Linked DNA regions of Homo sapiens: regions 2 and 3 are each linked to region 1. Evidence: fine-mapped expression QTL. A gene starts in region 1. Each other region holds a variant in brackets. All regions are shown on one strand. Distances are between the middles of the regions.

Region 1 (8,210 bases):
TACGTAATATACTACTAAACACATACCATGTAATATACCACTAAACACACACTATGTAATACACTACTAAACGACAACTGTGAACACTAAAAAGCTCAAGACATCTTCTCATTATCAAGCCACTGCCAACAAAAACAATGCCTTTCTTCTGTACGGTGCCTTAGAATTTTCAGCATTTATCACTCCTTTGAGCTTAATAAAAGCCCTATCCCATGGGCATTGAAATTTCTTATTTTTCAGTAAGGGGTCCCGATCACCCAGCCTTTTCCTGACTTCTGCTTATTTGCTCGCAACCTCATCCACTTCCCTTCTAAAGGCTAAAGGATATGCAAGTATTATTCACTAACCCTCAAAAGATGTTTGGGTACACCTTACTTTTTTAGAGACAGGGTCTTGGCTGTCACCCAGGCTGGATCGTAGCTCACTCTAGCCTGGAATTCCTGGGCTCAAATGGTCCTCCTGCCTCAGCCTGGTGAGTAGCTGGGACCACATGTGCATCCCACCATGACGGGCCTTTTTTTTGTTGTTTTTTTTTTCTTGGGGGTAGAGCCTGGGTCTCGTTACGTTGCCCAGGCTAGTCTTGAACTCCTGGGTTCAAGCAATCCGTCCACCACAGCCTCCTGAGTAGTTAGGATTACAGGCGTGAGCCACCGCACCTTTAGGAGGCCGAAGTAGGAGGATCGCTTGAGCCTAGAAGTTTGACCAGCCTGGGCAAGATGGTGAGACTCCAGCTCTGAAAAAATAATGCAAAAATTAGCCAGTGTGGTGATGCATGCCTGTAGTTCCAGCTGCTCAGGAGGCTGAGGTAGGAGGATCCCTTGAGCCTAGAAGTTCGAGGCTGCAGTGAGCTATGATCATGCCAGCACACTCCAACCTGGGCAACAGAGTGAGACCCTGTCTCAAAAATAAAGTGATAATGATATTGGGGTTGCAAATGTTTAGAATTATTATGTTTTAGGGCTCTCTCTGAGATCTGAATGGGCAGGATGATGGAGCCTGAGATTGGCTTCACATTAATCCAGTGAGGAGGGTGAAGAGGGGAGCAGATGAGCCGGGTACCCGTACCTCACGAATCCCACGTACAGGGATTCACTGTAAGTGTTTCTATTATAGACTGCATTTACGCATGGTGGAAATGTTCCAAAAAGCTAAACAGAATGGCCAAATCTAGCTGAGAGGTCTGTATAAAGTGTCACATAATAGTTTAAAGCAGATGTTGGCAAACTCATTCTTAATATTTTTGGCTTTGGGAGCCATACTTTCTCAGTCCAATATTCACCCTGCCCTTGTAGGGTAAAGGCAGCCATGAATAATTCACAAATGCACATGAACAACATAGCTGCGTTCCCATCAAACTTTATTTGTAGACATTAACATTTAAATTTCAGTAATAGTCACATGCCAGGAAATATTTTTTAATTTTGATTTTTAAAAACATTTTAGGGCTGGGTGAGGTGGCTCACGCCTGTAATCCTAACACTTTACGATGCCAAGGGTGGTGATCTTTTAATTAAGCCCAGGAGTTGGAGACCAGCCTGGGCAACATAGTGAGACCCCACATATATTTACCCTAGCATGGTGGCGTGTGGCTGTAGTCCCAGCTACTCGGGTAGCTGAGGTGGGAGGATCGCTTGAACCCAGGAGGTCGAGGCTGCAGTGAGCTGTGATTGTGACACTGCACTCAACCTGGGCAAGAGGGTGAGACCCTGTCTCAAAAAACAAAATCATTAATTTTTTAAAAAGTAGGATGTAAAACCATTCTTAGCTCGTGGACCCTAGAAAACGGGCAGGATTTGGTCTGAGGGCTGCAGTTTGCGCACCTGTGGTGTAAAAACCATACCCAAAAAGCCTGGATAGGGAAGGGATTTCAGCTTACAAAATACTCGAGAGAATATATAGTGCACAATAGAAAAGAATTTACACACGCGCACACACACACACACACACACACACACACACACACACACAGAGCGAGACAGAGAGAAGTTAATTGTTAGTCTCTCCCTGGTGCAGTTGGGCAAAAATGAGGAAATCTTTTCTGGTCTGGGTTTTGCTTAACTGCGCCATCTGAAGTTTCCATATAACAAACACAATAAACGGATTTTTTAAAACCCAACGTCCCTTGGATGGGAATTTTACCGACCATGTGTTTGCAAAACTACCTAGTCGGCCGGGCGCGGTGGCTTACGCCTGTAATCCCAGCACTTTGGGAGGCCGAGGCGGGTGGATTACCTGAGGTCAGGAGTTCGAGAGCAGCCTGGCCAACATGGTGAAACTCCGTCTCTACTAAAAATACAAAAATTAGTCGGGCATGGTGGCGCGCGCCTCCCCCAGCTACTCGGGAGGCTGAGGCAAGAGAATCCCTTGAACCCGGGAGGTGGAGGTTGCAGTGAGCCGAGATTGCGCCACTGCACTTCAGTCTGGGCGACAGAGCAAGACTCCGTCTCAAAAAAAAAAAAAAAAATTACCTAGTTGTCCCATCCGGTCCCTAGGGAACAGCCTCCGCTTTCTCTTTTCTCTGTGGTTCAAGTGTTAAGACGGCCAGCCCAACCCGCTAGCCGTGCGCCATCACCCGGGCACCGATCAAGTTCCAACCCGAGTGGATCGAGTTCCAACCTGCGGGCCATGCGCCCTCACCCGGGCATCGATCCGGTCTCAACCTGCGGGCCACGCACTCTCACCCGGGGATTGAGCAGGTCCCAACCCCAGGGCCTCACGCCCTCACCCCAGCACTGAGCAGGTCCCAACCCGCGGGCCTCAAGCCCTCAGCCGGGGACCGAGCAGGTCCCAACCAGCCAGCTACGCGCCCTCAGCCCTGCACCGGGCAGGTTCCAACCCGCGGGCCTCTCGTCCTCACTCCATCACGGAACAGGTCCAAATCCACAGGCCGTGCGCCCTTATCCGGGCACCAGTCGGGTCTCAACCTGCGGGCCACGCGCCCTCACCCAGGCGCTGATCAGATTCCAACCCGCGGGCCGCGCGCGCCCTTACCCAGGCAGCCGAGAAGGTCGCAGGCAGCGGCAGCGCGCAGGATGCGGACCGAGGCCGGCGGGGACGTCGCGGGGGACCCGGGGCCCGCGGGCCGGCGGCCGGGCAGCAGCTGCAGAAGGCCCAGCGCCAAGCGGAGCCCGCCGCTGCCCAGGCAGAGCGCGTGGAAGGCCCGCGGCTGGAAGCTCAGCACGAGCTGCGTGGCTGCGTCCCGCGTGGGGCAGCAGAAGGTCCCTAGGCGCGGGGAGGCCATGGGCTGTGTTCGCGGACGCGGCTCGGGTGTGCCAGGACCCCGCCGGCCTGCCTGGGTCATGTGCTGGGCGGGCTGGGGGCGGCATCATGTGCCCTGGGCCTCTCCCCCACCCCAACCCCCAGCGCCTGCAGTAGAGCCAGGCTCGGTGGGGGCCGAGAGCACTGGGCTAACGCCACGAGGCCTCACGAGGTGATGCTTGGGCGGGCGGAGGAGGAGGACAGAGAGAGGGAGGGCTGAGAGGAGAGGAAGAGGGAGGAGGAGGAGGGAAGTGGAAGGAGAAGCAGAAAGGTTGGGAAGGTTACCTTTCTCCCCATTCACCAAGCCTTCCTGGTGGTTTCTCTGCCACCTAGAGCGCCAAACCTGCCATCTTTACTGGTCTTCTAGAGAAACAGGCCTCGTGGACTAGATCTTTCCTATTTGGGACTCTGACATCCTGATTTTGATGCCTTTAAGGCGCCAGAACATGTTCATAAACTGTGACTGATCCCTGTAACTGCTTTTTTCCTAAGTAGAGATGGTTGTCCAATTAGTGCTTTTTTTTATGGCCTCTCTCATTCATGGATATAATCCCACAGAGGCAGGATTTTCGTTTACAATTAATGAATGAAACAAACAGATCAATGTTAAAGAAAGAGCAGTAGCTCACACCTGTAATCCCAGCACCTTGGGAGGCCGAGGCAGGCAGATCGCTTGAGCTCAAGAGTTGGAGACCAGCGTGGGCAACATGGCGAAACCCCACCTCTATTAAAAATACAAACATTAGCCCGGTGTGGTGGCCCAGGCCTGTGATCCAAGCTACTCGGCAGGCTGAGGTGGGAGGATCGCTTGAGCCCAGGAGGTGGAGTTTGCAGTGAGCCAAGATAGTGCCACTGCACTCCAGCCTGAGCGATAGAGCCAGACCTTGTATCAAAAAACGAAACAAAACAAAAATTAGCTGGATGTGGTGGGGCGTGCTTGTAGCCCTAGCTTCTGGGGAGGCTGAGGTGGGAGGATCACTTGAGCCCGGCAAGTGGAGGTTGCAGTGAGCAGAGATTACACCACTGCACTCCAGCCTGAGCAATGGAGTGAGACCCTATCTCTCTCTCTCACACACACACACACACACACACACACACACACACACACACACAGAATTAAGTTTAAAATTTAAAAACATTAAAAAAATAAAGGGAAAAGTACTCAGCATAAGTACACACAGACACATTTTGCACCTTAACTTTCAGTTCTATTTATTTGGATTTTTCTTAACTGCGTTAATTTTTCTATGTTTTCTCATACATTGAAAATCTTGCTTTATTCTATACATGTAAGTTTCCAAGTAATATTGTGTTAATGATTACAGTAAGCATACTAAGATTTTTTTTTTTAAGTTCTTCAAGGCTGAAAATAGAAGTGCTCCTTCTAGATTATGGCCTTTATTTTAAAAAAAGAAAAGAAAAAAAAATCCAGCTCCATCATATTTATCATCTTCAACAAACCTCATTGGCTCTTTGTGACCACACAAGAGACACCCTTCCTCCTCTCTCCTGGTAAAATGGGCCCCTCTCTGGGTTTTTTTCAAGCAACCAAGGTGCAGGTGTCCCCATTGTGTTCATGGACTTTCCTCACTTGTTCTCCCCACCAGCTTTGCGGTTTTAAGGAAGGCATGATCTGTGCCGTCTTCCTCTAGGGATAGCAGGACTGGCCTTCCCTTGGGACCCCACAGAAGGCAGGCGGGAGGCTCCACTGCCAGACAGGAAGCGGAGCCTTATTTAACAACAATGAGGTGCAAACTCCACCACTTCAAAAGAGTCCAGATCTGGCACGTCTATAAACGCAGCCTGTTCACTCCACAGCTGCCTTCCTAGAAGTCAGAACAGACTGACATCTTCAGAAAGCTTAACAGCTCTGCTGGATTACACACTCCATTGTAAAAACAGTCAGAAGCACCATAGAACTACTCCCCAAGCATTAATGTTTAAAAGCTTGAATTCTAATATCTAATTTGGACAGTGGCTCTCTTTCCTTCTGCCTTGGTAAGCAGAGTTGCTTCTGGAGGTTAGTGTAATGGAAAGTGCTTTAAAAGATAAAAATGAAGAGTGTCTGTACATTTGCCTGAAGGTTGAGGGCCAGTGGGCCAGGCAAAGGGGTCCCTGCATTTGAGTCACTGTTTCATGCCCCAGAAAACACACTCCGCCTCTCTGCTTCCTACGTGATAACCTGGGAGTACTCTCCAGGGGGCTCTGGCTGACTCTGGTGCCCACTACTCAAGCTCAGTAGTCAGAATCTCATCAGTGAGAAAATGGATATGAATGCAGATTCCTAGGGCCATGGCACAGATGACAATGGTAAAGATGAGCCTCAGAGTAAAGGTGCAGAAGCATGAGTGTAAGACTAAATTTAAAACCCTGTCATCAAAGTGAGAGGGAACTAGAAATTGGTATGAGAGGCTGGGCCCAGTGGCTCACACCTGTAATCTCAGCACTTAAGGAGGCTGAGGCAGGAGGATTACTTGAGCCCAAGAGTTTGAGACCATCCTGGGCAACATAGTGAGAGCCCATCTCTAGCGTCTTCCTCTAGGAGCAGCATCTTTTGAAGTGGTGGAGTTTGCAGCTCATTGTTGTTAAATAAGGCTCTGCTTCCTGTCTGGCAGTGGAGCCTCCTGCCTGCCTTCTGTGGGGTCCCAAGGGAAGGCCAGTCCTGCTGTCCCTAGAGGAAGACGACACATCTCAAATTAGCAGAGCGTGCTGCTGCGCACCTGTAGTTGCAGCTACTGGGGAGGATGAGGTGGGAGGATCACTTGAGCCCAGGAGTTTGAGGTTGCAGTGAGCTGTGATTGCACCACCAAACTCCAGCTTGGGTGAACTGAGATGACAAACTTTTTTTTTTTTTTTCCTTTGAGACAGAGTCTTGCTCCATTGCCCAGGCTGGAGTGCAGTGGCGTGATCTCAGCTCACTGCAATCTCTGCCTCCTGGGTTCAAGTGATTCTCATGCCTCAGCCTCCTGAGCAGCTGGGACCACAGGCACATGCCATCACACTCAGCTAATTTTTTGTCTTTTTAGTAGAGATAGGTTTCGTCATGTTGGCCAGGCTGGTCTTGAACTCCTGGCCTCAAGTGATCCACCCGCTTTGGCCTCTCAAAGTGCTGGGATTACAGGCATGAGCCATCATGCCTGGCCTGACAAAACTTTTCATGAAACAGTACAACTACAAATCTGAGAAAAGTGAAGCAAATACACACGCACACACTTGGGAGGCAGAAACATCTGGAAGTTTCGTAGATATGGGAGATACAGGGATGGCGGTGCTGAATATGAACTTTGAGGTATGTGTGCAGAAACAATCGGTCTTTGAGTACATGAAGGTACATCTGTTTTTGCATGAACCCTTCCTCCGTTTTTCCCTCCTTCCCAGTTTAGCACCTGAATTCGCTCTCCATTTTCACAGTTTGGGCTGCCTGGGGCATCTGTTCCCTGGAAATGCTCCATCATCTTGGCTTTCTCTCATTCCACAATCCACCATTTACCCACCATTCCCACTTGATCAGATGCACTTGATCAACTGCTGGAAGACGGTTCCTGAGTTTCTCTCCCAGGCAGTTTATTTTTCATGGTGAGTCCCCTGACATCGAGATGTCTCAACCAAAAGAATGGGGTTTATGGTGAGACTCAGATATCCCTTAGAATCCAGTAGAGGAGGTGGCTAGGGGCAGATGGATGGCAGAAACAGCCTAAGTAAGGAGACTGCCATTCACAATAATTTGAATTTAAATAATAAATAAGATTTGTTTATTTATTTATTGACATGGAGTCTCACTATATCATCCAGGCTGGAGTGCAGTGGTGCGATCTCAGCTCACTGCAACCTCTGCCTCCCGGGTTCAAGTGATTCTCCTGCCTCAGGCTCCCAAGTAGCTGGGATTACAGGCGCCTGCCACCACACCTGGCTATTTTTTGTATTTAGAGTACAGACGGCGTTTTGCCAAGTTGTCCAGGCTGGTCTCGAACTCCTGACCTCAGGTGATCCGCCCGCCTCAGCCTCCCAAAGTGCGGGGATTGCAGGCGTGAGTCACTGCGCCCAGCCTAATAAATAAGATTTAAATAATAAAATAATTTATGGAGTGTAGGCAGGCACTATGCTTTGAATATTACATTCATTATCTCATTTAATATTCAGAATGAGCCTTCCAAGTGGGTTTTACTGATACTTAAATTGATATAGACAAAACATGGCCAGGTGCAGTGGCTTATGTCTGTAATCCCAGTACTTTGGGAGGCCAAGGTGGGAGCATTGTTTGAGCCCAGGAGTTCAAGACCAGCCTGGGGCAACATAGGGAGACCCTGTCCCCCACCTCCCCCAGTCAAAAAAAAAAAAAAAAAAAAAAAAAAAAAAGCCGGGCTCAGTGGCTCACACCTGTAATCCTAGCACTTTGGGAGGCTGAGGCGGGCAGATCACCTGAGGTCAGGAGTTCACTACACTCCAGCCTGGGCGACAGAGCAAGAACAGGAGAAAGAAAGAAAGAAAAAGAGAGAGAGAGAGAGAGAGAGAGAGAGAGAGAGGAAGACCAGCCAATACATAAGTCCATGGGTATGGCTGTGTGCCAATAAAACTTTATTTACAAAACAGGCAAAGGGCCATAGGCTGCAGTTCCTGTAAGTCTACCACCTGAGGCTCTGGCTTATCTAGCAGCTGCTTGAAAGGCTGGGCAACAACCGAGAAATGGAGGAGGATTAACACTTAGTGGGGCAGACAAACTTATTCCAATGAGAGAGGAAGCAGGAAGTCACTGGCAGATGTATTGCTCACCCTTCCTTCCTAGGGAGGTTTCTGAGGAGTGGTTTCATATGTTCCTGTGTAACCAGCTGGGTTTCTTGGGAATCTTGTGGCCAGTTCATGAATGGCACTGCTCTTAATTTGCTTTCTTCCTTCCTTGCCTCACCCTGCTTTTGTGCTCACTCCTAGAGTCCTTATAGACACACAATGTGCCT
Region 2 (8,210 bases), 52 kb before region 1:
GCCTAAAAAGTTTTTTAAATGTTTATTCACTTAATTTGCTATTTTTCCAAATATGGCTGTCTGTATTAATTTAGTTGGTAATAATAGATGTCATGTTTTAAATTGTAGGGGCATTTTAGGAAACTTGATAAATATTCTACAAAAATATTTACCATTTACGTCTATAGGAAACATAGAAACAGGGCTGGGCGCAGTGGCTTACACCTGTAATCCCAACAGTTTGGTAGGGTGAGGCAGGAGGATCTCTTGAGCCCAGAGGTTCAAGACCAGCCTGGGCAACACAGTGAAACCCCGTCTCTACAAAAAATAAAAAAATAAAAATTAGCCGGGTGTGGACCTATGGTTGCAGCTTCTCTGCTGAGGCTGAGGCGGGAGGATCACTTGAGCCCAGGAGTTCGAGGCTGCAGTGAGTCATGATCACGCCACTGCACTCCAGCCTGGGCAACACAGTAAGACCCCATCTCAAAAAAAAAAAAAAAGGTGCAGAAACAAATGTAGATATCAAATTGTTTCCCTAATAAGACCATTAAAGCTTTTTTTCTGTTTAATGACTATGGCTTTGTTTTTAATACTTGTAAGTAGTTACAGTTTAGAAGACAAAAAGCTTTTTAGTTATTATCTTTTGAAACGTAAAAGCTGGGAAAAACAACTCCTGGAGATCTGATACACATTATGGAGAACTGTTTGAAACCACCGTGTGTATGTGATTTTGCTTTCTCTCCCACCTTGCTAGTGCTTCGTTTGATTCTACGGTGCGACTGTGGGACATAGAACGAGGCGTCTGCACCCACACGCTCACGAAGCATCAGGAGCCTGTCTATAGCGTAGCTTTCAGCCCTGATGGGAAGTACTTGGCCAGTGGATCCTTCGACAAGTGCGTCCATATCTGGAATACTCAGGTAAGCTCCCGACCCCTACACCAAATCCTTTTAGTAAGGGATGCCCAAATAGCCACGACTCCAGTGCCCTTGGCTCAGAGCAGTGCCCCGGAGGGAGTTGAGCAAGCTCAGGCTCCCCGGGCAGACCCAGTGGATGCTGTCCACGTGCACCCCACGTGGGCTGTCAGCTCTTCCCCCACCAGACACCTCCGGCAGCTCCCCTCCCTGAGGAAGGGCGTCGTGTCCACCGTAATCATGGCTCTTGGCCATTTGATTCCAAACCCTCACCTTGGCACACGTTCTTCCTTGAAGGAGCCGCTGTCTTCTGTTCACTTTTCTGAGTCCATGGCACGAAACCTTCCACCTGCCTCTTCCTCTTCTTAGCAGTTATCACCGAAGTGCTGCTCTCTAGATACTGAGGTTAGAAGGTGGGAGTGGGGGACCAGCTAACGGGGTCAAGGCCACACCAGCTCCTGCAGCTCCCTTACGGAGCAGACCAGGGAGTGGGAAGGAATGTGCTCTTGCTGTTGTCATGCCACTTCAATTTTTCTTTTCTGTTTTGTTTTGTTGTTGTTGTTTTTTGTTTTTGTTTTTGTTTTTGAGACGGAGTCTCACTCTGTCACCCAGGCTGGAGTGCAGTGGCGCGATCTTGGCTCACTGCAACCTCTGCCTCCCAGATTCAAGCAAGTCTCCTGCCTCAGCCTCCTGAATAGCTGGAATTACAGGCACCCGCCATCATGCCCAGCTTATTTTTGTATTTTTAGTAGAGACAGGGTTTCACATGTTGGCCAGGATGGTCTTGAACTCCTGACCTCAGGTGATCCGCCCACTTTTGCCTCCCAAAGTGCTGGGATTACAGGTGTGAGCCACCGTGCCTAGCCTCAATTTTTCAAATCAAAGTAGGTTCTGTTTGAGGACATAAGGTATGTCAATATTGGGTTGTCCTTTTAGCAGGGATTGAAAGGACATAGGATTTAAATAAAGGTGGCTGCTGTGGGTATCTTGGGCCACACCTGAGGATAGAAGAATTCCAGCTGTAAAGTGTAGAAATGGATGGGAAGTAGCACTGCATAGCATAAAGGATTGTATAGGGCCATCAGCACGTGATTCTAGTCTAAGGGAAGAGAGAGGTGATAATATGCTAGGAGCTGTTGAAAATAAGGAAGGGGTCCCTTTCGCCTCAGGAGGGGAGGAATCACACAGCCTTCCCCCTGCCCCCTTTCATCTGCACTGCCTTCTTGGTTCCTTTTGGCTTGGTTGACATTCAGGTGGATTTATACCCTCAAGTTCATTCCCCCTGTGGACTCAATGGTGATGAGCCCTGTTCACTGGCAAGGGGTCCACTGAGATCACAGGCTTCCCAGGGACCTCATGTGAACCACATCCTCTCAGGGAAGGAAGGGAAATGGTGGACCCTGCGTAGAGCCAACCCGACGCCAAGCCCAGCCCCACAGCCCTAGATAGCTCTCCGGGAAGCACGCATCTCAGCACTAGTGTCCAAGAGTCTCCGTTCCTGAAATCCTCGCTAGAAATAGTAATGGGTGGATTTGTAAAAAGAACACATCAATTATCAAAACAATGACATGATCAGTTAGGTACAGCCTGTTGTCAGGAACTCACTGAACTGTTTCAACCCTTTTTTATAAATCAAAGAAATCCTTAGGACTTTTCTTTTTTTTTTTTTTTTTTGGATCGGAGTTTCACTCTCGTCACCCAGGCTGGAGTACAGTGATGCCATCTCGGCCCACTGCGACCTCTGCCTCCCGGGTTTGAGCGATTCTCCTGCCTCAGCCTCCCGAGTAGCTGGGATTACAGGTGCGCACCACCACAGCCGGCTAACTTTTGTATTTTTAGTACAAACGGGGTCTCACCATGTTGGCCAGGCTGGTGTTGAACTCCTGACCCCAGGCAATCTACCCACCTCGGCCTCCCAAAGTGCTGGGATTACAGGCATGAGCCACCGCGCCCGGCCAAGAAATCCTTAGGAATTTTCTTAAGAGAAATCTTAAAGCCCACTTTAATCTTTCTCCAAGTATAAAAATACTTATCTGTAATACTGCCGACACACACCTTTCTCAGTTCATGGAACACCACCCTTTAAGGGGCCCAATTGAGCAGAGGATTTGGGACAGCCCTCCTGGTCTCGGTGTTCAGATTTCTCCTGCCTGTCACCATAGTGAATCATGAGTGAAGGCTTATTCGACTCTTTCTCTCTTTTTTATTTTTTAAAATTAATTTTTGTAGAGACGAAGTCTCACTGTGTTGCCCAGGCTAGTCTTGAACTCTTGGGCTCAATCCGTCCTCCCGCCTCGGCCTCCCAAAGTGCTGGGATTACAGGGTGAGCCACCTCGCCTGGCCTTATTCAACTCTTTCAAAGGCCTCAACTTCCCCTACCTCTTAGATTTGTCAAGTTAATGCTGTTTTAAACCGGAAACCAATGGTCTGTGGTGTTTTCCATTACATGTATATTATGCATTTCTTCTTTCAAATGTCCAAAAATACGTACATTTTAATGTCATGGCATATTATTACATTTAATCATGAATTACAGTCAATTTAATTGCTACTGGGGTGGGTGTATTCATTATGTTGTATTCATTCAGGTCCTCCAAAGAACAGACACCAGAACAGGATTAGATGGGCGAGAGATTTATTGGGGGAAAGAGCTGTGATGGAAACAGGGAGGAAGGTAGGGGGAAGGGAGAATTCAGACCATAAGGCCAGTCTGACCCTGGGAAGGAGACGGGAAGGGTAGGAAGAGTCAGGGATGGCCCTTACAGGTCTGTAGAAAGTTTTGGTCGTGCTGATGGAGAGTCCATGAGCCACTTACCCACCAGATGAGTCTGAGTCTCAGCAGGTGACTGCCATGGTCTCCCGCCTCCATCAGTCCTCAGCTGGGTGCAGCCTCAGAATCCACGCAAATGTGGCAGATTCCGCAGGCATAAGTAATCAGGTTCACTCCTCGTGGTGGGAAGTCCTAGAGGCACATCTCCATGGCCCCCAGAGTCCTTACTGAAAACCCTTAAATTTCACCATGCTTGAAAATGTTCATGACGAAACGTCAGGGCCGGAGGAGCGCACATTCCACACCTGCATCTGTCGCAGGCGCCCCTTGCGTTGTAAGTGACAGCTGCTTTGCTTTGCAGAGTGGAAATCTTGTCCACAGCTACCGAGGCACTGGCGGCATCTTCGAGGTGTGCTGGAACGCCCGAGGAGACAAAGTGGGTGCCAGCGCGTCCGACGGCTCTGTAAGCAACACCTCTGGTTTGCTGGGGAGTGGGGTGTTGGGGGCAGCTGATGCCTAAGTGAGCTTCCAGGGCGTGTGCAGCATTCGTGTCCTGAAGGGCCTAGCCCAGTGCCAAAGGAAGCTTCTGGGCTGGATCCCATCGGAGTTGGTACCACATCTGGGAATGGCCTTCTCCTTGTCCCTTCCAGAGTGTCCTTCTAGTCAACATTTTCTCAGTCAAATTGGTGGTTCTCAACCAGGGTGATTCTGCACCTCTAAGGACATTAGACAATATCTGGAGCCATTTTAGGTTGTCACTACAGTCATGTGTC[G/A]CTTAATGACGGGAACGTTTTGGGAAATGTGTCATTAGGCACTTTTATCTTTGTCTGAACATCATAGAGTGACTGACACAAACCTAGATGATAATACCTGTCCCACACCGAGGCTGTGTGGTACAGCCTATTGCTCCCAGGCTACAAACCTGGACAGCGGGTGACCATACTGATTCCTGTAGGCAACCAGAACACAATGGTAAGCATTTGTGCGTCCGGATCTATCTAAACATAGAAAAGGTTCAGCAGATATATGGTTATAATCTTACAGGACCACTGCGGTCTGTGCGGTGCGTTGTTGCTGGAAACGTCATTATGTGACGCGTGACTGTGCTTAGATGAGGATGCTGCTAAACCTCCTACTGTGCACAGGGTGGCCACAATTGTCACCCATGCTGTGGCTGAGAAGCCCGGGCCTCTGGTGGCCATCCTGCAGGTCTCCTGGGCCCTCTTCTCTTCCCATGGGGCATCTGGATTTCTTATTTTCCCCTGGACTTGAGGTTGCCCTGACCTCTGGGGCAAGCGGCCGTTCTGGCTGAACGGCCAAGGGTCAGAGTAGTCCCCAAATGTTGTCAGAGGCTGTGTACTTGGGCTCGTATTGTCATCTGCCCCACGATTGCAGGTGTCCCTTCTGGGACCTCTGCCACTCTGTTAATTCCTATCATTACCCTTAACCTGGCCTTTCTGCTCTGTGCTGTTTGCTTCAGTTTGCTCGGTCCGATGTCCAGATGCCAGTCTGTTATGAGAGCTTCTCTGACCCTTCATGACGATGTTCCAATAAACTTTACTGACAAACATCGGTGGAGGGCTAGATTGGGCGTGGGGGCCGTAGCTTGCCGACTTCTCACTCTAAAGGCATCTTTGTATTGTCTCTCAAGATGACAGGTGCTTTATCTTTCCTTCCAGGTGTGTGTTTTGGATCTGCGGAAGTAACCACAAAATATTATCGAAAAAAGAAAAGAATTCTAATGACCAGCCGTGAATGTGTAGGGTTGCAGCTCTATTCTCCAAAACTGTAGGAACTTGACTTGCGTTAGAGTGTACTCTGAAACCAACTCGTCTCTGGCCGCAGGAGTCTATATGTTTTCGTAATCTTCATCAAGAAGTTTTTAAAAGGCAAGCAAAAACAGAAGCAAATCATATCAAACGGGGATAGAATGGTTTCCACTGAGGACATTCAGCCTGGGAAGGAGGAAGTCACCAGCTCGAGGCGTGTGGATTGGTTTCCACCCGGAACAGGCTCTGTGATGGCTGAATGGAAAGAAACGTAAAAAGCTGTGCCAAAAAAAAAGCAAAATGCTGTGATAAACCAAACAGGGAAGGGGGAAAAACCCTCCTCCTTGGGATTTTTTTTTTTTGTTTTCCCTAACAATTTGGACACTACAATTGCTCTCACAAAGGAGGTTCAAAGACCAGTTTGTACCGATGAAACGCGCAACTTTGTAATCCCAACACTTTCTATTTTCTAGAATCTTCTTTGTTCATTGGGTGGTTTTTCAGTCGGCTGGAATTCTATCTTCTGGGGGCCTTCCGTCTGAGATGGAAGCTGTCTTGGGCTTGTTGTCTCTTCCTTCTGTTGCTCCCTGCCCCTCCCCCTGCCTTTCCACTCTGTCTGGTGAGCTCTGCTTTTTCAGTGCACCATCAAGAGATGCAGCCCCGTGGACATGAAGACACAATCTCCCACGGACAGCTTTCCCCCTTCCGCCCTCTCCCACCCTCTCCTCCCCTTGCGCTCGCGCTCGCGCTCGCTTTCTCACTGGCGTGCTCTCTTTCTCTCTCTCTCTCCCTCTGTACCTTTCTCATAGTTGCTTCAGATCTTAGGTCTCAAGGGCACTTTGGCGCGTAGTAAGTGCTTTATGTAAGAAGGCAGGGCAGGGGGGCTTTTTACAGGAGAAAAAAAAATGACTTATAAGAGAAAGAGCCTGGAGTATTTTTGGAAAAAAAAATAATATTTTTATGTTAAAACAATTTTAAAATCTTAAAATGGCCATCAGACATAGAGAGCTTTGTGTGATTCATGTTTTAAAAAGAACCGAAGAAGCCACAGGCAGGGCCTGAGGGAGCCCCTGGCTTTCCCCTCAGCCTCAGGAAAGGTGGTCAGGAAAACTCTGGCTGGACAAGGGTCAGTCTTCGGGGTCAGCAGCGAGATTGCTCTGCAGCCAGTGAGGGAGGTCCCCGCCATGCCGGCTGGAAGAAGAACCTCGCATCTTTTGGTGTGTATGCACCTTGGCAGCCAGCAGGAAAGCAGCGAAGAGCCGCGCGCCCTCTGGCCTCAAGGGAGCATTGGCAGAACCATAAGGTACTGCAGAAGCCGTCGAAACCGACTGCTCGGCTGGATTAGGCGTGTTGGCTACATCTTTCCCACAACCGTATAACGACCGATGGTCATTTCTCCAAGAGCAGGCTTGGCGAGTCCTTGCAGAGCTGACATAGAGGCGCCCGCATGTCACTTAGTCTAACGCTGACAGAAATGAATGCAGAAGGAAGATTTTCAGTCCTGAACGTGAATTATAGAGGTAGAACGTCGCTAATAATTTCTGCCATCTTTATAATTTCTTTGTCTCACAGAAGACTAGGAGAAAGATCTTTTTTAAATAATCTTTTTGCTGTTTTTAAAAAATTAAACAAGGCTTTGTGTTCCTAGAAGAGCTTCATTTCAGTGAATCTGGTGACCTCCATCTGCTTGCTGTCATAACCCGACACGGACTTATTTTTGTCATTAGCAAGGGGGAAAAGGCCAAAGGACAAGGGCCTCTTCTCCCATTGGTTTTCCTGTGGGCAGAAGGGCTGAGGAAGATGGCCCAGCCCGTGGGGGCTGCTGGGTCACCAGCAGTGGGTAGGGTGCAATCTGGTGTGTGTTCCAGCAGTGAGACGGTGTTATTGTGAAGGTGGCATTCATCTGCGGAGCCAAAACCCAGCCATCGGGGAAGGGTCAGGGCTTCTGTGGAACTTGGAACGTGCCAGGACCACCTGCAAAAGCCAGGGTGCGTTGATCATTCTCAGATCATTGATTGGCCTCCACTTGGGTATGTGAATTATTCATGTCCCAGAAGACCAAAAAGTGCTCTGGTTCTGAGATGAGTATTTTATTCGTGTTCTGTTTCCGAAACACTTAGCAAAGAAGGTCACAGTGATGTGGAGTCGCCGCACCCATCTTTGAAGATAGCCAGTGTCCCTGGATGAGGTGATGATTTCCCGTCCCAAGGACTCTGTGAAGTTTAGAGTACAGTTTGTTGGGGTCCAAAAGACACCATCTCTACCCCACCCAAATAAAAATGCACTCATCTCTGTAGAACATCTGCTGTCAAAGGCCAGCCTGTCGTTAGGGCATGGCTTATGCTTGACAAACCAGTAACAACTGTGGGATGGCGATGGTGGGATGTGTCGCAAGCAATTCACTAGACAATCTTCACATGAATGTCGGTAGCCAGGGTCTCTCCCGAGGGATGGCTTTAGTCTTGATGAATGTGAACCATGTCGGAATTGTTAGGTAGAAACCTGGGCTGGGAGGCCTCGGACCCCAGGCTCCATCCCTGGCTTCCCCAGCCTGCGGCCGCAAGCAAAACCAAGCGCGAGATGCAGCTAGCACCCTTCATATCCATCCCCGTTCTCAGCGGGACAACACCATGGACAGCCGTTTTCAGAGCCTCCAGCATTTGCACACCACTACTCACCCTCTCTGCTGCTGGCATGTTGGTAGAGTCATCCCTGTAATCAAGAAATGGCCTGTGGAATGTTATTGTTCAACGTTGTTTACAGCTCTTAAAACATGGT
Region 3 (8,210 bases), 22 kb after region 1:
CTGCAAACTCTAATAAGCACACTGGGTATATTTATACAGCTCTTTATCTTTTGGTTTATCATATCCATCCATTTCTTAAACTTTGTGAGATAACTGGATTTACATGTAGTTGTAATGTGTCCAGAGTTGGTTCCTTCCGGTGGGTTCTTGGTCTTGCTGACTTCAAGAATGAAGCTGCAGACCTTTGCTGTGAGTGTTACAGCTCTTAAAGGTGGCACAGACTCAAAGAGTGCGCAGCAGCAAGATTTACTGTGAAGAGCGAAAGAACAAAGCTTCCACAGCATGGAAGGGGACTGGACCGGGTTGCCACTGCTAGCTGCAGTGGCCAGCTTTTATTCCCTTATTTGACCCCACCCACATCCCGCTGATTGGTCCATTTACAGAGTGCTAATTGGTCCATTTTACAAACCTCTAGCTAGCCACAGAGCGCTGATTGGTGCATTTTACAATCCTCTTGTAAGACAGAAAAATTCTCGGAGTCCCCACCCAACTGGCTTCGCCTCTTGGTAAGGAATAATACAGGGAAGTCCTGTGCACCCTTCACTCTTCACCTGCCTGTTCCAATGGCAACACGTTACAAAACTACAGCACAATGTCACAACCTGGAATATGGACATTGATACAATCCACCAAGCCTTTTCAGATTTCCCGTTTCACGTGCATTTAGTTCTGTGCAATTTAGCTTAATCAACTTGGCAGCTCCTGTGACCATCACCACAGTGAAGATACACTCGACTTGATTCTGAGAGGCACATTCCTTAAGCCTTCGTTTAATCTTTGAAAAAGAAAAAATCGCCTCATTCTTCTAACTAAAGGCATTCAGAGACTGTAGTTAGAAGTTAATTATGGGGCAGTCACCACGTGCCCAGCGCCATGACAGGTGCCCAGTGGAGCTGCGACTCTGAATTTAATCGGCTGCATGAGACACCTCCACAGAATGCACCCCTCTCACTTGACCTCTGAAGAAACAGACCAGAGCTGAGATTTCTTGTCCCAGCTTGACAGTGGCAGAACCCAGACCCGGGGACCCTTGACTCTCTGTCCAGTGCTCTCCCGGCCTGTCCTGGATGCGTACTCCAGCATCGTCACCTCTGAAAAGGGCCTGGATGGAGCTGCTTAGAGAAAAGAGGTGTTCACCAGCCTTCAGCTACGTATAGAAACAGCAACGAAAACAGCTTTTTTGCAAAGCATGTAAATACCTATCCATGCAGGTACTTTAGACCAGAGTTTCATGGAAACTGAAACCGAGCAGGAAGAGGTGGCACACATGTTGTCCGCAAACTTTCACCAATCCCAGACCTCCACCTCCCCTTTTCGGGGATGTAAACCTGGGAAACTTGAAGACCTTGTGGTCCAATCCTAGGCGAGTGGGGACAGCATCTAGACGCAACGGCTTTCTGCGCGGTGGCTGTGGGAGGCCTCTGCGGGAAGGTGGGAAGGCCCTCGTGGAAACGGGGCACGGTCCTTCTGCGCCCGCCTTCCAAGCCCCTCCAGAGGCCGGACCCGCGCCCGGCTCAGGCTGCTGGGGGGCGCCCTTCCCGGCTCTCTAAGTCCAGAGTGTGAGTGCGCGCAGGGCCGCGCGGGACGGGCGGTCCCTCTGCCCCGGGGCAGCGGCCACAGCGCGGGCACCAGGGCCTCCCGCGGCGCTTCCGCTCTCACCTGCGCGGCAGCCCGCGGTGCGCGAGAACAAAGTGTGGGCGCCGGCGGGCCGCGCGCCCCGAGACGGAGGAGGCCGGAGACTCCCGCCACGCCACCCCGCGCCCATCTCACCTGCCGCCTCACCTGCCCGGTCCTGGCCTCCAACCGGCGGGCGGGGGCGCCCAGAGCTTCGAAGCACTGCAGAGCTCTGGCGCGGGAGGAAAGGCCCGACCTGGCGCCGGGGCCTCCGCCCCCGTCCTCGCCCGCGCTGGCTCCGCCAGCCCCGGGGCGCGCGCTCCTCGACCCCGACCCCGAACCCGCTGAACGGCGCGCGCGCCTGAGCGCCCCTCCCGGCCCGCTCCCCTCCACCGGGCGAGAGAACCGGGGCGCGCCCCTCTCCAGCTCTCCCCGGTACGAGCGGCCGCGTGGGCCCCTGAGCGCGCACCTGACCCCGTCCCTCACCCTTCGGGCCGCGGGCTGGACCTCTGGACGCGCTCCCCGTGACCGGCCCCGCGGTACGAGCTCCCGAACGCGCCCGCCCCGCCCCCCGTCGGCCCCGCCCCCTCCCCGCCAGCCCCGGCCCCGGCCCCGGCCCCGGCCCCGCCCCCTCCCCGCCAGCCCTCCGGGCTCCCTCCGCCGCCGGGCCGGCACTTTCTTTCCAAGTTACGGCGCAAGTTCTGCGGCGCTCGGAGCCTCCCTTGCGATCCCACGGCCGGGACTGCCCGGAGTGCATGGGCGCGGGCCAGGGACGCTGAGCGGTCGCGCCATGGAGGGCGCCGAGCCCCGCGCGCGGCCCGAGCGCCTGGCCGAGGCCGAGACGCGGGCGGCGGACGGCGGGCGCCTGGTGGAGGTGCAGCTGAGCGGCGGCGCCCCGTGGGGCTTCACCCTGAAGGGCGGCCGCGAGCACGGCGAGCCGCTGGTCATCACCAAGGTAAGGCGGCCGCGGGGCGCGGGCGCTGACAGCCGGGAGCTGGCCGCCCTGCGGGGCGCGTCGAGGTAGGGGCGCGGGAGGGGCGGTAGGCTCGCGCCCCCGGGTCTGGCGCGCGCGTCTGCTGGGGTCACCTGCCGGGCCTGGGCGCCGGGACCGGCGTGGGCGTGTGATCCTGGCGGTTCCCCGCGCCTCGCAGAGTTTAAATGGCTCCTGCCCGGAGTCCCTTTCCCCTCCCCCTCCCTCCTCCGGGCAGGGGCCTGGCCGGGTCCTCTGGCGCTCCCGGGCCCGCCAGTGGCGGCCTGCACCTGCGGGGCTGCCTGGAGGCCAGCGAAGGAACGTGTCCCCGAGCCGTCCCCACCTATGTTTGCCTCTCTGGGGTCCCTGGTTCGGCACCCCTTGGACCCGTGCCTGTGATCACTACGAAATCCAGAGTAGCAGCTGTCGCCAGCGCAACTTCTCGATTCCCTTCAGCCCATCAATGTTTACTGACTTTCGGCTTCCAGTCCCAGATCCACTGCGCACTGGATACCTGCGCAAACTTAGAGAAACCTGAAAGCCTGCTTCCTAAGAGCAGGACCCGAGTTCTAATAATAATAAAGAAATTCCAGATGTATCTCATCAGGAATGTTGTGTGTGTGTGTGTGGTTTGCTTTAGAACATTGAATTTTATTGTCTCAAAACAAAATCCATCTGGAAACTTACCAGTTGAACCTGTATGAACTTGTAAAAGCAAACACATAAACAACAGTCCAGTCACCCTGTGTTCTAGTTAAAAGTGTGTAGTGGTCATTTTCTCTGGGAAGGGTTGAGTCGGACCTTTCGTGTGGACGAAGTTCCTTTTAAAATGTAAAGATTCTTGGCGACTAGAAGCGTTTGAAGATAATTTACTGGTTTTCTCGGCTTTCCTGCCTCTCCACAGCAGGAAGAAATTAAGTGATTCCTAACCCGCCGCACTGGTAATCAGTTTGGGAAGTGGGATGGCTTTGTTGTTCAAATAGCAAATGAGACACCAGCGTCTTCCATTCTATATTTTCTGTCGCTTTTATGATTACAAAACTTTGTGGAGGGATTTGGAGAAGCCTTGTTTAGCTTTGCACTAAATTTTTGTTGAACTCA[G/C]GAAAGAGGTTGCCATTGTTATAAATTTGACCAATGTGTAATCTTTTATCACACTGGCTTCTTTGGAAACATGGTGGACAGTCATAAAGTGTGTATACTCTGCCCAGCCAGAACACTCCTCTTTTTTTTTTCTTTTATTTCTTTTCTTTTCTTTCTTTCTTTCTTCTTTTTTTTTTTTGAGACAGGGTCTTGTTCTGTCAGCCTCCTGAGTAGCTGGGACCACAGATGTGCGCCACCATGCCTGGTTAATTTTTTAAAATTTTTTGTAGAAACGGGGAGTTTCACCATTTTGCCCAGGCTGGTCTCGAACTCCTCTGCCTCCCAAAGTCCTGGCATTACAGGCATGAGCCACTGCGCTTGGCTCAGAATGTGGATTAATCCAAGCTTTGAATCTTCCTCTCCCAAAAGCTACTGAAAAGTCACTGGGGCTCATTAAAAAATAGCTCTTCTAATCGTTTTTTTTTTTCCACTTGTAATTAAATAGTTACATATTAGAGCCCTGGAATACTGTACAACTCACTTGCTATTTAGCAGACTCTGATTTGGGGATAGCTTGCATTAAGGTAAGAGCGCACCTTCTCTTTATGATAATGAGGGTATCATTTGAAAGCCTCATGGGAGTGCGTGTAGTAGAACTGGGAGGGGTGTCAAGAACAAGGCTGGTTCGGTCCTGGTCTTCAGATGGAATTTTATCAGCCCATTTTATAGATGAAACAGCTGTGGCCCAGGCAGGGCAAATGGTGTATCCTGAGGTCACAAACTGTTGAGTCCTGGGAAAGGCCCTAAGAATCAGACTCTGGCCCCAGTGTTCAAGCCTGCTGCTCCCCTTCAGTCAGTGCCATCTGCTTGGGTCTGGGATCTCCTGCAATGCCATATTGAATACCTTCGTCACATCGGTTAGGTGAGGGTTTGCCAGCCTTGGCATTGGGGACTTTGTGAGCTGAATCTCTTTGCTGTGGGGCTGCCCTGTGCTTTGGAGGATGCTCAGCAGCCTCCCCAGCCTCTACCTGCTTGATGCTACTGTCACCTCTCTCCAGGTGTGATGACAAAAATGTCTCCAGACATTGCCAAATGTCCTCTGGGGGCAAAATTAGCCTGGTTTTGAATCTCTTTTGTTAGATTAACCATATATCACCTTTGCTCTTAAAGGATTCTTGCTCTTAAAACTTCTGTTTCTTTTTGAATAGACTGGCCTTTAGGGTGGTGTGTTTAGAGGCCTCTGGCATTGCCAGTGTTTGCATGGAGAGCTGTTTTCCTCCCACGCGTTGGCCCTGAGAATAGGCTTTATTTACATAGTCAAACTCAAACAAATACTTGCTTCATCTGCATTTTTTGTAGCTGGAGAAAGGAAATTGAAGCAGGAACTCCCAAGTGCTGTGTTTTATGGGCATCCACAGTGGCTGTTCAGAATCAGGACTGACTACTCTCTGGGTCTAGTTTGAAGCTAAAGGGATACCAACTTCAGAGGAGTAGCATTCTTGGAATTTGGGGTGCATGCATGAAGCCCAGCAGAACCTCCGCTGACAGATGGCGACAGGATTCATCACTCCTCAGTACGTTTCTGCTGATTTCTGCCTTGAAATTTTGCTACAGTTGGTGGAAAAAATGCACTCAAACCCATATTTCCATGCTGTTGTTAGAGAGGGGGCAGGAATAACATCCATGCTGTAGGAATCTATGTAACGGAAGTAGAGATGGTGGATATATGTGATCCTGGTGGGTTTTTTGCATGTTTCTGTTCCCATCCATTCAACCAGTGGAAGTCTTCAGTGGGGGGAGGGGAGGGGACTGATTTCTAAAATGTCACTAGAGTGGCTTGAATTCCACAAAGCTGTTTGGGGGATTCATGAGGAAGCGTTAAATACACCAGCTGGGTGTCAGCAGCCCCCTGTGGCCTCAGGAATGTTTGTTAAGGGAGGGAAGGAATGAAGCCCCAGCCTCTCCTGTTCACTATTTCTTAGAGTCCGCTCCCTCCCCCAAAAAGAATGCCAGAAGCCTTAGCCCGAAGCTCCAAAGAAGACAGTAACTTGGGCCTGGCCTAGCCCCAAGGGCAGCTCCTTTGGGAACCCATTGATTTTCGGGTTGCCATTGGGCACCAGAGCTGTTGTGTGCGACAAGACTGCTGTGGTCTGGGACGCTTGGAGGTCCCCCCCACCTGACTCACCCACCCCAGGGCTTCAGACTCTGAGAACATTTCTCTGGATTGGAGACAGAGCTTTGAAATGTCCTTTCCAGTGTGAATGCCAAAGACGGAATCAGGGCATATTTTGGGGGGCGTGCAGCCAGGTGGCAAGTGTCTTATGTAAAGTGTTAGCTGAGTCCTTGATTGCAGAGGGCACAGGGCTGAGACTGGTGGTTGGTGATGGGCAGGAGTGGAGGCCCCGCGCCTCTGATGTACCTTACTTATTGGTTTGGAAAGGGGGCTCTGCATTATGGGCCATGCCAAGTCACCTCGTGACCCGAGGACCGGGGAGATCAGAGTGACCACCCTGGTCGGGATCAGTTCTTGTCTCATATGCCATTATATTGGCTCCCAAGAGCCAACCAAGCTCTTTGTGAAATATCAGTAAAGGTTTTGAAAAAGAGGGACCTGATGAATTCAGCAGTGGGTCAGGAGCGGGTGACTCTCAACTTTGTGGCTGCTGGTGGATTTTTGTGCCCAGATGCAGTGTGCGGTCAACATCTGCACGAGGGAGTGCTGCTGCTTCTCCAGGTGTCTGAGAACCAGTGGGTGAGGGCTTGGATCTCCCTTGCCTCTGCCATCTCTAAGTGATGTCCGAGTTGTAAAGCTTTACTCACTTTTTGATGCCAGCTACCATGTTTTCTTCAGCTATTAGGATAAGTGTCATTATAAAGATCCATCTGTATTTAAGAATTAATAGTAAGGTTAAAAACCAAGAGGTGAGCTTTCTTTCCTGTGCTGAAAGACCCTTTCAGTTGGTAGGCCCGCCTTGCCAACTGGCTTTCAAGTCTATCTTTATTACCTTTTCCCAGCCTGTGAATTAATGTGACCCTGCTGAATTCTCATCCTTGTTCTCCGGCGATGTTTTGGGCAAGAGTGTGGAGTCAGGCAGTGAGCCTCAAGTCCTATTCCAGGGTCTGGGAGCTGGAGGCTTTGAGGGTCAGCTCTGGGAGGATTCTTCCTCTCTTAGACATTAACTCAGCTTGACTCACGCCTATGAATCCAGAGCCTTCTGCGATTATGAGAAGCTGTAAACATAAGCTATGCATCTCACTTCTGTACCAGGATGCGTTCGGTCTTCATGGCTCAGTTATGAGTATTTCTTAACATGTCGTAACATTTATCTTTTGAAAAAAAAAAAGAAAAGAAAACTAGTTTGCCCAAGAGCTAAAGGTAGAATAGTATGATAATGAAAGGCTCAGAACAAGTAGCAGTTTTCACCTTGTCCTAATGAGCTGGGGGTTTCTTAATCTACCTTTGTAATTCATGGTCAAAAAAACTGGCTTGCCACTTGGGAAGGGCTGGTTTTTCTCTTTGGAAAGCATTTTGGAGTTGTTTGTCCCCTTGCCAGAGTTGTTTTGTATCAGCATGCAAATAAACCTGGATTTGTGGCCAAGTTCTTAAGGGCAGTGGAGAAAAGCTGGGGCTCTGTGGAACTTTTCTTCTTGCACACCGGGTGCAGCGGAAACATTCTACACGATAATGTTAGAATGTAAAAGCTGAATGGACTTTTTATTCAGGTCTTCTTTTACTTTCAAGCACTGTAGTCAGCAGTGGGGCAATTCATGAAGGATAAATTCTGCAGGTTTCTGCAAGCCCTCTTCCTACACATGCAAGCCGAAAACTTTAACCCACATGAAGGATTTTGAAAGAGTTCTGGGTTGCCTGTTGCTCTTTTAGGCCTTTAAAAAAATATCACCAGTGCCAGGCACGGTGGCTCACGCCTGTAATCCCAGCACTTTGGGAGGCCGAGGCGAGTGAATCACCTGAGGTCGGGAGTTCAGGACCAGCCTGACCAACATGGAGAAACCCTGTCTCTACTAAAAATACAAAAAAATTAGCCGGGTGTGGTGGTGCATGCCTGTAATTCCAGCTACTCGGGAGGCTCCCGGGAGGCAGAGGTTGTGGTGAGCTGGAGATCGTGCCATTGCCCTGGGCAACAGGAGCAAAACTCCATCTCGAGAATAGAATAGAATAGAATAGAATAGAATAGAATAGAATAGAATAGAATAGAATAGAATAGAATAGAATAGAATAGAATAGAATAGAATAGAATAGAATAGAATAGAATAGAATAGAATAGAATAGAATAGAATAGAATAGAATAGAATAGAATAGAATAGAATAGAATAGAATAGAATAGAATAGAATAATCACCAGTATCTGATACAGGGAGGGTGTATTCTGGAGGAATTGTTGTCCTTTACCTTGTGTGATGCAGTATTTGGGCTGTCCTGTAGTAGAGCCAGCCTGTTCCCATTATGGGTGTGAATGTTCCAGCTTCTCTTTGGGGGAACATGTCTTAGAAGGATAATACTATATCATTAAAAAGAAAAAATTGGA

Alleles and levels. Positions count from the first base shown, and alleles are read on the strand shown. Sizes are in standard deviations (SD) of each study's normalised expression.
In carriers of allele A in region 2, the expression in tibial nerve of the gene that starts at base 3,271 in region 1 tends to be lower than with G alone (small effect, 0.26 SD a copy in GTEx).
With allele C in place of G in region 3, the expression in prefrontal cortex of the gene that starts at base 3,271 in region 1 is lower (small effect, 0.20 SD a copy in GTEx).

What was found.
Region 2: its variant is fine-mapped to the expression of GPR143 in tibial nerve (GTEx, PIP above 0.99).
Region 3: its variant is fine-mapped to the expression of GPR143 in prefrontal cortex (GTEx, PIP 0.98).

What each region holds. Positions count from the first base shown.
Region 1 is chrX:9,762,577-9,770,786 of GRCh38, forward strand. It overlaps GPR143 (G protein-coupled receptor 143), which reads right to left and starts at 3,271. Exons shown (of 9, transcript NM_000273.3): 1 at 2,992-3,271. The coding sequence starts at 3,241. RefSeq lists an enhancer at 2,177-2,678.
Region 2 is chrX:9,710,878-9,719,087 of GRCh38, forward strand. It overlaps TBL1X (transducin beta like 1 X-linked), which reads left to right. Exons shown (of 18, transcript NM_005647.4): 16 at 734-899; 17 at 4,025-4,126; 18 at 5,343-8,210. The coding sequence ends at 5,369. Among named protein-coding and RNA genes, the nearest start is that of GPR143, 51 kb to the right of the region's middle. The variant G/A (reference allele first, on the strand shown) is at 4,437.
Region 3 is chrX:9,784,142-9,792,351 of GRCh38, forward strand. SHROOM2 (shroom family member 2) reads left to right here and starts at 2,288. Exons shown (of 10, transcript NM_001649.4): 1 at 2,288-2,569. The coding sequence starts at 2,405. The variant G/C (reference allele first, on the strand shown) is at 3,686.